Linked DNA regions of Homo sapiens: region 1 is linked to region 2. Evidence: fine-mapped expression QTL. A gene starts in region 2. The other region holds a variant in brackets. All regions are shown on one strand. Distances are between the middles of the regions.

What was found. PIP is the estimated chance that this variant, and not a neighbour inherited with it, causes the effect.
Region 1: its variant is fine-mapped to the expression of RNF44 in whole blood (INTERVAL, PIP 0.96).

Annotation. Positions count from the first base shown.
Region 1 is chr5:176,406,332-176,411,843 of GRCh38, reverse strand. CLTB (clathrin light chain B) reads left to right here. Exons shown (of 6, transcript NM_007097.5): 2 at 1,541-1,587. It also overlaps a transcript of ARL10 not described here. Among named protein-coding and RNA genes, the nearest start is that of CLTB, 7.5 kb to the left of the region's middle. The variant C/T (reference allele first, on the strand shown) is at 3,013.
Region 2 is chr5:176,535,258-176,540,257 of GRCh38, reverse strand. RNF44 (ring finger protein 44) reads left to right here and starts at 2,856. Exons shown (of 11, transcript NM_014901.5): 1 at 2,856-3,318. LOC124901143 (a long non-coding RNA gene) reads right to left here and starts at 2,329. Exons shown (of 2, transcript XR_007059071.1): 1 at 2,135-2,329; 2 at 961-1,200. RefSeq lists enhancers at 1,863-2,042, 2,283-2,722 and silencers at 2,833-3,092, 3,173-3,362.

The sequences.
Region 1 (5,512 bases), 130 kb after region 2:
GTGGTGTGTTTGGAGAAGGAGGAAACCAGAATTTAGGGTTTGTGGGATGGGCTGGTGGGAAGTGAGTCAGGAATGGGCAGGGCCAGATTGTAGAGATCCTCATGTTCCAGGGTTAGATGTACTTATCTGGCAAATATTTATTGAGTCCTTGTTATGTTCCAGGGACTGTTGTAGGTGGGCCTCATCATGGATGAAACCAAGTCCACACCCTCATGGAGGGTCTGTTTGTTGGGGGAAGACAGATAATAAACACATACACAAATAAACACAGCAGGCTGTAGTAAGTGCGCTTAATACTGCAGGAGGAATAGGAAGGGGTGCCCAAGGGGTGGATGGGGGTGTGGTCAGGGAGGCCTTTAATTAGGCAGCATTTGAGCAGAAGCTGAAGGGAGTGAGGGAGCAGCCTTCCAGGCAGAGGGAACAGCACCTGCAAAGTCCCCAAGGCAGGAGTAGGCGCTATAGGCCACTGTGGTCCATGGGAAGTGGATTTCTTTGGAGTTTGTTTTCATGACATTTTGAGTCAGAGGAGAGGCACAGGTAAGTGCATGTTTTACAGACTGTCAGCCCTGGCAATTGGTTTGAAAGAGGGATGGGAGAGGCTGGAGTCAAGGGGGCCTGTGAATGGGCAAAAGCCATGCAGTCGTTGTCTTTCTTTCATGCATGTATTTACTTGTTTATTCAACAAATAATTATTGAGCACCTGCAAAGTCACAGGTGCATGCAAGTCTCTGGGAAAGACACAGGAGAAGAGAAAGAGACACAGTTATGTCTTCCCAGGTGTTTGCCCCTAGCGGGCAAAGCAGTTGTGCAGGTGCAAGGTGGTGAGGTCCTGGGCTGGGGCTGAGCTGCGGGAGAGAGTGGAGGGCAACTGTGAATGTCAGTGTTGTAGCAGAAGCCCCAGGAATTTGTGACTAATCAAATGTCAAGGAAAGGGACAGGGAGGAGTCACTGCTGAGGGCAAACTTAATTCCTTCTGGGAGGGGCACAAAGAGAAAAAATATGCCAGGTGCTTCTGGTGGGAACTGCAACTCCTGCTCACCCAGGAGGAGCAGTTGCTCAAGGCGCCTCAGGGACAGGCAGAGACGCGTAGGCCCCTCTCTTCCTTATCCAGTGTAGCCCCTGCCCTGAGCTTACAGCAGCTCAGCCTACTCACCAGGCACAGGCTTCACAGGTAATCTGGCCATTCCCAGCCATGGCCAGGGGTCAGTGATTTCAGGTAGGTAAGGAGCTATTACTGGCTGGGTGATTTTGAGCATGGCCTCTCTGAGCCTCAGCTTGAGTATCTGTAAAATGGGTTGACAACAATTTCATTGCAGGGCTGTGGTGAACATAAAATGTACTAATGGCTGTGAGAGGCTTTATAAACAGTCAGGGGTGGGATTGAGCCTAAGTTATATATATATCCATTATGTCTGTTTGCATGTGGGTCGATATATACATGGGTATACACAGAGTTTGGGTTGAGGGGCTAATGTAGGACCATTTCCTGCTTGCTATAAGCTAAACAGTGAGTAATGCTATCTCCTTGTTCTCTTTCCAGCTGGTTCTGAGGACATGGGGACCACAGTCAATGGAGATGTGTTTCAGGTAAGCAAGGCTCTGTCTCAGCAGTGGTAAGGACCAACAGCCCTGGTCTCAGTAACCTAAAGCCTCATTGTTGTAGGCTTACAGCTCCAGGTTCTCCTGTTCATTATGTCTGATGCATTGGGGTGGAAACATAGAGAAAGGTTTTTGGAATTTTTTTTGTCATGTAGAGGGCAGGGAAGAAGAATAAGGACCACTAGAGATCGAGATTGATGGGCAGTAGCCTCAGGTTGCCCATGGTGATGTCTGGTTTTGGGAGGGAGAGGTCAAGTGGCCCACAGCAGCATGAGATGAAGGCAGCGCAAGGCCTTCCCTCACCACTGACGGGAGGCAGAACCCAGGCCATCTCCACACACAGGGCGGGCCCTTTGATCCAGAGATTCCACTTCCAGAATTTTCCCAAAGGAAATAATTGGACAAGGCCACCCAGATTCTTTGCAGGGTTATTTATAATGGCAGACAATTTGGAGACAACCTAAGTGTCCAGCATCAGGGAACTGAATAGATAGATTAGAAAACCAGGCTGTTGTTAAAAAGGGCAATCAGGGCCGGGTGCAGTGGCTGACGCCTGTAATCCCAGCACTTTGGGAGGCTGAGGTGGGTGGATCACGTGAGGTCAGAGTTCAAGACCAGCCTGGCCAACATAGTGAAACCCCGTCTTTACTAAAAATACAGAAAATTAGCCAGTCATTGTGGCAGGTGCCTGTAATTCCAGCTACTCGGGAGGCTAAGGCAGGAGAATCACTTGAACCCAGAAGGTGGAGGTTGCAGTGAGCTGAGATTGTGCCATTGCTCTCCAGCCTGGGAGATGAGAGTGAAACTCTGTCTGAAAAAAAAAAAAAAAAAAAAAAAAGGGCAATCAGATCTTCCTGTATTGACGTGAAAAGATGTCCACAATATATTAAGTGGAAAAAGCAGCTTGCAGAATAATATACACAGTATGGTCCTTTTTTTTTTTTTTTTTTTCAATTTTAAAAATATGTTTGGGCTGGGCGTGGTGGCTCATGCCTGTAACCCTAGCACTTTGGGAGGCCAAGGCAGGTGGATCATGAGGTTGGAAGATTGAGACCATCCTGGCTAACACGGTGAAACCGCACCTCTACTAAAAATACAAAATTAGCTGGGTGTGGTGGCACAAGCCTATAATCCTAACTACTTGGGAGGCTGAGGCAGGAGAATAGCTTGAATCCGGGAGTGGGAGGTTGCGGTGAGCCGAGATCACGCCACTGCACTCCAGCCTGGGCAACAAGAGCAAAACTCTATCTCAAAAAAATAAAACTAAAGGTTTGCACTACATATCTGAAAGGATGTGTACCAGCTGTTAACAATGGTTAGCCCCAAGGGTGGGGTGGGATGGGGATAAGAAAGGGGCATTCACTTTCACTGGGTTGTTTACAAATTCTTTAAGTGTTTTTATCCTGCAAAAAA[C/T]GAGGAAAACCCAGCCGGGCACGGCGGCTTACGCCTGTAATCCCAGATTTTGGGAGGCCAAAGTGAGAAGATCATGTGAATCCAGGAGTTTGAGACCAAACTGGGCAACATAGTAAGACCCCATTTCTGCAAAAAATGAAAAATTAGCTGGGGCAATAGTGTGTGCCTATAGTCCCAGCTACTCAGTAGTCTTAGGTGGGAGGATTACAGCTTGAGCTGGGGAGGTCCAGGCTGCAGTGACTATGATTACACTACTACACTTAGCCTGGGTGAGTCTTTTTTTTTTTTTTTTCCTGAGATGGAGTTTTGCTCTTATTGCCCAGGCTGGAGTGCAATGGCACGATCTCGGCTCCCTGCAGCCTCCGCCTCCTGAGTTCAAGTGATTCTCCTGCCTCAGCCTCCTGAGTAGCTGGGATTACAGGCACCCGCCACCACGCCTAGCTAATCTTTTGTATTTTTAGTAGAGATGGTGTTTCATCATGTTGGCCAGGCTGGTCTCGAACTCCTGACCTTCAAGTGATCCACCCACCTCGGCCTCCCAAAGTGCTGGGATTACAGGCACGAGCCACCGTGCCCGGCATGACAGTCTTAAAAAAAAAAAAAAGAGGAAAACCCTAGTAAGTGTATTTCTAGTTAAGACTGCTTCTGTCCGCACCCACCTAACTCTCTTCCCCTTGCATACACACAAATCCATTTTAGTACTCTGAGGGAACTCAGACCACAGAGGCATGCAATAGTCCTCACCTCGGCCCCCCAGCCAGATGCCTGGTGGGGCTAAACCTCCCCTCAGAGCCTTCATTCCCACTCAGACTGGGCCAAAGAGCCTTGATCCTGGGGTCTTTGGCTGTGGGATCTTCTGAGCCCCGCCCTGGAGGAGCTGGCTTCTTGAATCCTCTGGGGGAGTAAACAATACTTATTTTCTTATGTAAGAGGGATGGGCTGGTACCTTATGCAGGGAGACTGGCCAAGTCCTGTTTCTGGAAAATTACTCAACTATCAGCAAGCTGGAAAAGTCCATCTCTAGGACTTCAGCAGCTTCATGTCTAGTTGGGCCCGAGGGAGTCAAAGAATGAGGATTTGCTTCTGTGCAGCTTGGTAGATCATTAAGACTTAGGCTGCCCAGGCTCTCTGGCCACATTCAGAAGGACTTTGCTTGACCCCACAGTTCTGTGTCCTAAAGTGCACCTGGAGCTGGAGATATGCTTGGAACCACAGAAGTATGTAGAACATGGCCGGGCACAGTGGCTCACGCCTGTAATCCCAGCAGTGGGAGGCTGAGGTGGGTAGATCATTTGAGGTCAGGAGTTCAAGACCAGCCTGGCCAACATGGAGAAACCCTGTCTCTACTAAAAATACAAAAATTGGCTAGGCAGGGTAGTGGTTGCCTGTAATCCCAGCTACTCAGGAGGCTGAGGCAGGAGAACTGCTTGAACCCAGAGGCAGAGGTTGCAGTGAGCTGAGATCGCACACTGCACTCCAGCCTGGACGACAGAGCGAGACTTTGTCTCAAAAAAGAAAGTACCTAGAACACTCTGAGCTGGATCATTTACCTTTCCTAAAGATTAGCATCACGAAGCTCAGAGAGGTGAAGTGGTGAATGCAAAGTCACCCAGGAAATCAGCCACTTCTGGAGTGCACCCCATTTGACTTGGCCCCCCGCCTTCTCCCTCCCGACCTGTCAGCCGTGGGTGAGCTGTGGGTGAATCTGAGGAGCCCGGGGCCTCCTTTCCAATCTGAGTGAGAACTCTTATTCTCACTGTTACTAAGAATCACAGCAGGTGTGTTTATTTGTAAATCATATCACATCAGTGCCATCCGAGAATCCTTACAGGCAGGGCAGGGTCACAGATGAGCTGAATCACTCAGAAGCTTAGTGGCAAAGCCCCAGCTTGCCTACATCTCCTGGGCTCCGACCCGGTGTGCTTTGCATTACGACTCTGTTGCTGGAACTGGCTGGCCACAGCGCCTGGGTCACAGGTGGAAAGCCCCAGCTCTTTAGGATTGAGCATAGCAGGTCTGGCCTGCACCTGCAGGGGGAGGAGAAACCTTGGCCTGTGCACACCCAACACTTTCAAGGATCCCAGACAGAGCTTTTGTGCTTCCTTTCTTCCTCTTTTCTGCAGCCCGTGCACCACCAGCGGGTCCAGCTACAAACCCAGTTGCCAATACAGCCTAAGGACGAGCCTGCCCACAACTATTCCAGTTCCATTTGGCACAGCCAGGGGCAGGGACAGAAGGGCCCTGCAGGACTCCGCCTCCCCACCTCTGCACAGATCCTCTCTCCTTTCCCCTAATACTCCCATCATCCTCCTTTTAGCTTCTTAGAGGAATCAGCAGCTCAGCTTAGCTTAGATTTAGCTGATCAATCCCAAAGAAGGATGTGGCTCATCCTCTTGGCCATCCCTGGAGTCGCAGCACACGCTTGGCTGGTGTGGGTCCACAGAGGTTCTCATGGGTGGGCCCAGCAGAGGGGCCCCTCAGGAGAGGGATTCTAGGGAGC
Region 2 (5,000 bases):
ATGAGGCTGGGGTACCCGTATATGCCAGTGAAGGCTGGACGTCTGCGCACTTAAAAAAGCCAAACCCCTTCAGCCAGGAGGGGAATTACTGAGTGAGACACACAGCGATTGTGACAGGACTGTGTGCAAATTAAATGGCATGAGGTAAAGGCTGGGGTGCATCTAGCTCTGCGTTCAAAAATGGGGGATTCAGCACAGCTGGAGATGTCACAAGCAGCTTCCTGTAAAAGGTGAGTTAGGAACAGAGCTTCAAACCGCCGAAAAGTGAAATGGATTGGCAGAAAGGAAAAGAGAGGGCATCCCAGGCAGGCAGTCTAGCCTGAGCAAAGGCAGGAAGGTGGCAGGGAGAGAAAGCCAGACGAAGCACCACCATGGTGTGAGAGGAGGGACTGGGGAGAGGCGAGCCTGAAAAGTTCGGGCAGGAAGAGCTTGTTAAGTGCAGCCCCAAAACCAGGCTTCCATGCAGTTGGCAGTAGGGAGCCACTGTAGGCCCTATCCATAAGGACAGGCAGGCAGTAATCTAACAAATATGTAGGTACCTTCAAATGTGGGGAGGGTTTTTTTTTTTTTAAGACGGAGTCTCGCTCTGTCACCCAGGCTGGAGTGCAGTGGCGCAATCTCAGCTCACTGCAACCTCCACTTCCCATGTTCAAGCGATTCTCCTGCCTCAGCCTCCTAAGTGGCTGGGACTACAAGTGCATGCCACCATGCCCAGCTAATTTTTGTATTTTTTGTGGAGACAGGGTTTCACCATGTTGGTCAGGCTGGTCTCAAACTCCTGACCTTGTGATCTGCCCGCCTGGATCTCCCAAAGTGCTGGGATTACAGGCGTGAGCCACCGTGCCCGGCCATGGGGAGGGTTTTCAAATTGCTTTTATGTGGTGGGGAAAACAAAAGGTTGAAGGAGACATTGGAGGTAAAGGAACAGTTGATGATAAGGAACTGGGTAAAGACATAACCTTGTATAGCCACACTTATTCTCATGCACATGTAATTTTTAACTGTGATGGATAGAGTTTGGCGTTCCAGGGAGCATCGATAGCACTGCATCATGACCTTGCTCTTGTGTTGCTTAGAGATCTGCCGACAGCCGGCTCAGTTCCATCTTCAGTCATTGTGTTGCACAGTGATACGATCATTGCTGGTCTAAACATTGCCATAAACATGTCTGTTCCCCAAGCTGAAAGGGGGTTTCTGATTCTAAGGGAACAAAAGGTTTTCTGGCTTAAAAGACTTAAGACATAGTCTTTATAATAGCTTTCTTTAAAAATTTCAGTGGGTTATAATGCATAGGGTTTTTAAAAAAGAGCTAATGTGCAATATATACAATAGTCTATCCTACTGACCCAACTTCTCCCTTCCAGTTCTCCCTAAGGACAATTGTTAATCAGTTTCCTGTATACCCTTCCAGAAATATATGCAGATGTGGCATATGTCCAATTAAAGAAACCTGATACATACTGTTAGAACTGTTCAGCATCTTGGTTTCAATTTTTATATAAAATTTAGGATTACGAAATATACCAAAGCAGCATAGAAAATGAGCCCCCCATCCCCCTGCCCCATGGCCCACCACACAGGTTAACAGATGTTAACATTTTGCATTGGCGCCTTGTTTATGGCTGTCTTGGAGATAGCCCCGTGTCGCCTCCAGCTGCCTCTTTGTGGTAACTGCCCAAGAGTCGTTATTGATTATATGCATGCACCCAATATTCATTATTCGACCTGTTCCAGCTCTTGGATATTTAGCAAATTACTGATTTTCTGCTTATATAATTGTGGTGGAGGTAATACCCCATTTTGTATAAATTTTGCCCGGGTGGGTGGGCTTCGAGGCAAAGGAGAACGAGGCTCGGCTTTGGATTAGGTTCACACTCCTGCTCCGCCACACTTCTAGTTGTGTGATCTGGAGTAAGGGAAGGCCCTCACTTTCCCCATCTGTAAAATGAACTGGCTATAGTAATCCCTCCGTCTCATAGCTGCTGAGAGGAATAGAAAACTAAAGTATAGACGCTTCACTGGGCTTAGTTCCCAGTTTCCCTGGCTAGGGAGGTCTCCGCGGGGACACCAAACTCTCAAGCCCAGCCTAGCAGCTAGAGCGCCCAGCGCCTGCACTTTTGCTTTAAACTACAACCTGTTCCCCGCCTCTCTTCCTCCACCGCCACGCTGGGGGCGTGGCGGTTAAATGTCTCTGTGACGTCAGCGCGAGCAGGGCCAATCTCCTTGCCCGGCAGACGTTAGCTCGTTTGCATGGGTGGTCCGCCATTGGTCTGTTGGGCAATCTGGGCCGTACCAGCTTTTTAAAGACGCCGTGTAGTATAAACAAGGAGAAGTGGGGCGGCCGGGCCATGATGTCAGCGCGGTGCTGCAGCTCTTGGGGGTGACGTCATCTCCGGGAAGGTGGCCGGCCCAGGGTTGTTAGAGCCAGCATAACCACTTGGGCCGCTCTCGCCCCGTCAGAGGTCAGACCCATTGCACTTCAGTATCTCAGGCGGCACCCTGTCCCCGAGGAGGGGACCATGACACAGTAAGTCCGTACTGCCGGTTCTCCTGGCGGGACCCATTTCTTCGGCAGGGAAACTGAGCCTCAGAGGCGCGAGTAGTTAGCGAGTTTGCATAGCAAGTTCGAGTTGCAGCCGATCGGTTTTGCCCACCCTGGGGTCTCCCCATCTTTATGTCAGGATATGCGGCCCCGCCCCTTGCTTTTGACTATGGCTGCGGTCCCTTTAAGTGCGAAGGTGGGGGCGAGGAGGAGGTTAAAAAAATTCAAGATGGTGGCCCACTAGTCACGTGCGTGGTCGCGGCGAGTGATTGGCTCTCAGGGCGGAGCTCCCGGCGCGGGGCGGGGCCCCTGCGGGCTTGCAGCGGGCTACTGTTTGCCGGAGCCTCCCGGCGCGCCCCCGCGAGCCCCCTCCCGTCTGGCGCGCGACCCCGCCGCTTCGAATGTTGTGAATCAAATGTGGGGTTTGTTACATTCCGCTGCCGCCGCGGACAGTTCTTAAAGGGCCAGCCGCCGGCTGCCGCGCAGACCCAGCTGCGTCCTGCGCCGCCTCCCGCTCCCTGAGGGCCTGGGCCGAGAGAGACTGATCGCGCGTGGGCCTCGCGAGGCAGACGCCGTCGGGCGGACAACAAAGAGAGAGGCCCCGGAAGGAGCCGGGCTGCCCCCGGACCCGGGGGTGGGGAGGGGAGCACATTGTTCCGCAGGGCGGGAGCTCTTAAAGGATCCAGACAGGCACCCCCCCCCTCCCCCGCCCCCTGCCCAGTTTGGCCGTCCTAGATCGGGAACAAAGGAGTCAACGTGTGGCCGGGCGGCCAAAGGTGAGTCGGTGCCAGGGCCCCCAACTTCCTATTCCCCCACCCATGGACCTTCTGTTCCCCTCCCCTGGGAATGGGGGCCGTGATCTAGGTGGCTCCGTAGGGGTTAATCACGGGCGGTCCAGACTGCGGGCAGCGAGACCCCAGGGATCAGGAACCCCCCCCAAGGCCCCCCGTGGCCGGGCCGTATCTCCCCTCTCCTGCAGCTGAGCGCTGCGGTTGGAGAGGAAGGAGCCGCCCCCCTCCCCCTGCGGCCGCCACTTCCTTTGTTGTTGCTTTTGTCTCACGCCGAGCACATGGTCCGGGATCCTCGGCTCTTAAAGTCGCAGCGTTCTGGCCCCTGCGCTGCAGTCTCGCCTCCCGCCCCCGGTGTCCCTCCGAGAGCGGCGCAAAAGAGTAGGAAGCGGACGAGGGAGGCCCCTCTCGGGGCTGTGTCCGCGCCTCGGCCCCCCAGCACTATGCCTGGGGAGGGGTGGCTGGGTAAGCTTCCCAGAGCCCCACAGCGTGCACTTGGCCCGCGTTGGGGAGCCCCCCCTTCCCCAGGACCCTGGTTTCCTCCCCCACTAGTGTGACCACCTGGTTTCTTCTGGACTCTTCTGGTTTTATTTGGGCGCTGTGGGAAGGAAAGATTTCCACCCCCATTTTATAGCTGTGCCAACTGAGGCGCTCAGAAGCAAAGGGATTTCCTTGACCAAGGTCACTAGGGAGTCTTCTCTCCTAGTCTGGTGGTCCGGCCCTCAGCGGCCTCCAGGCACCACACGTTGGGAAGCTCTGCTTGCGCTGGGCAGAGCCTGCTTGTTTCGGGTGGGGTGTGGGGAAGTAGGAAGGGGGGCTTCTCTTCCTGGCTGAGTCTGCTCATGCCCCCAGGGTCTGACTTTGTTTTTATCTGCAAAAGGGAGTGTCTCTTCCTGCAAACAGATCCCTGGGGCTCTTAGACCAAGGTCAGGGTAGGTGCTTGGGGCACTGGACTTAAGGGGTTGGCCGGCTCTCATGGGTGGGTGTGGGGGGTTATGTTAACTGCAAAATGCATTGCGTGCCTGGGGCGGACGGGGCTCAGCGACGGGACTCTCAAGACCCGTTCACACAGAGCTCCGTGATAGGACAGCATGGAGATGTGGACGGGCAGAGCAGTTGTTAGGGGAGGCCACCTGGCCACCCTTGCTATTTGACCTTGAGCAAGTTGCTAGCTCCAACTCTGGGCCTTGCTTGCTTCTCTGTACTACAGAGCTAAAGATGGGTGCCTGAAAGAGAGTGCTCTCCCAGCCTCCTGTATGGCTTGGAGACTCGGGATTAGGTGATTTCCTCCAGCTACTGATGCCACAGGAGTTATGGCTTGGGGGAGTTTGGGCCTAGGAGGCCAACTAGGACCAATTCCGTTCTCTCTGGTCTTGTGGCCTAGAGTAACTTACTTCCTTTCTCTCGGCTCCAGTTTTCTCAGCCATGAAGTGGGTGTAACCCTTCTACGCCACCCCTGTTCCTGGCAGGGCTTAAAGAACCAGGATCCACTCTTACCAGCTGAGGTATTCCCCTAGAGTGGCATATCTGCCTGCTGCCCCGGAAGTGGCACCCTTCAAGCTCTGCTTGAGGTTGGAAATGGAGGTCAGCGTGTCGTATTCGCTAATAATGATCATTCACACCCAAGCTAAGTTCAAACTTTACAAGTTGCTTCTGCTGTTGCCTTGGAG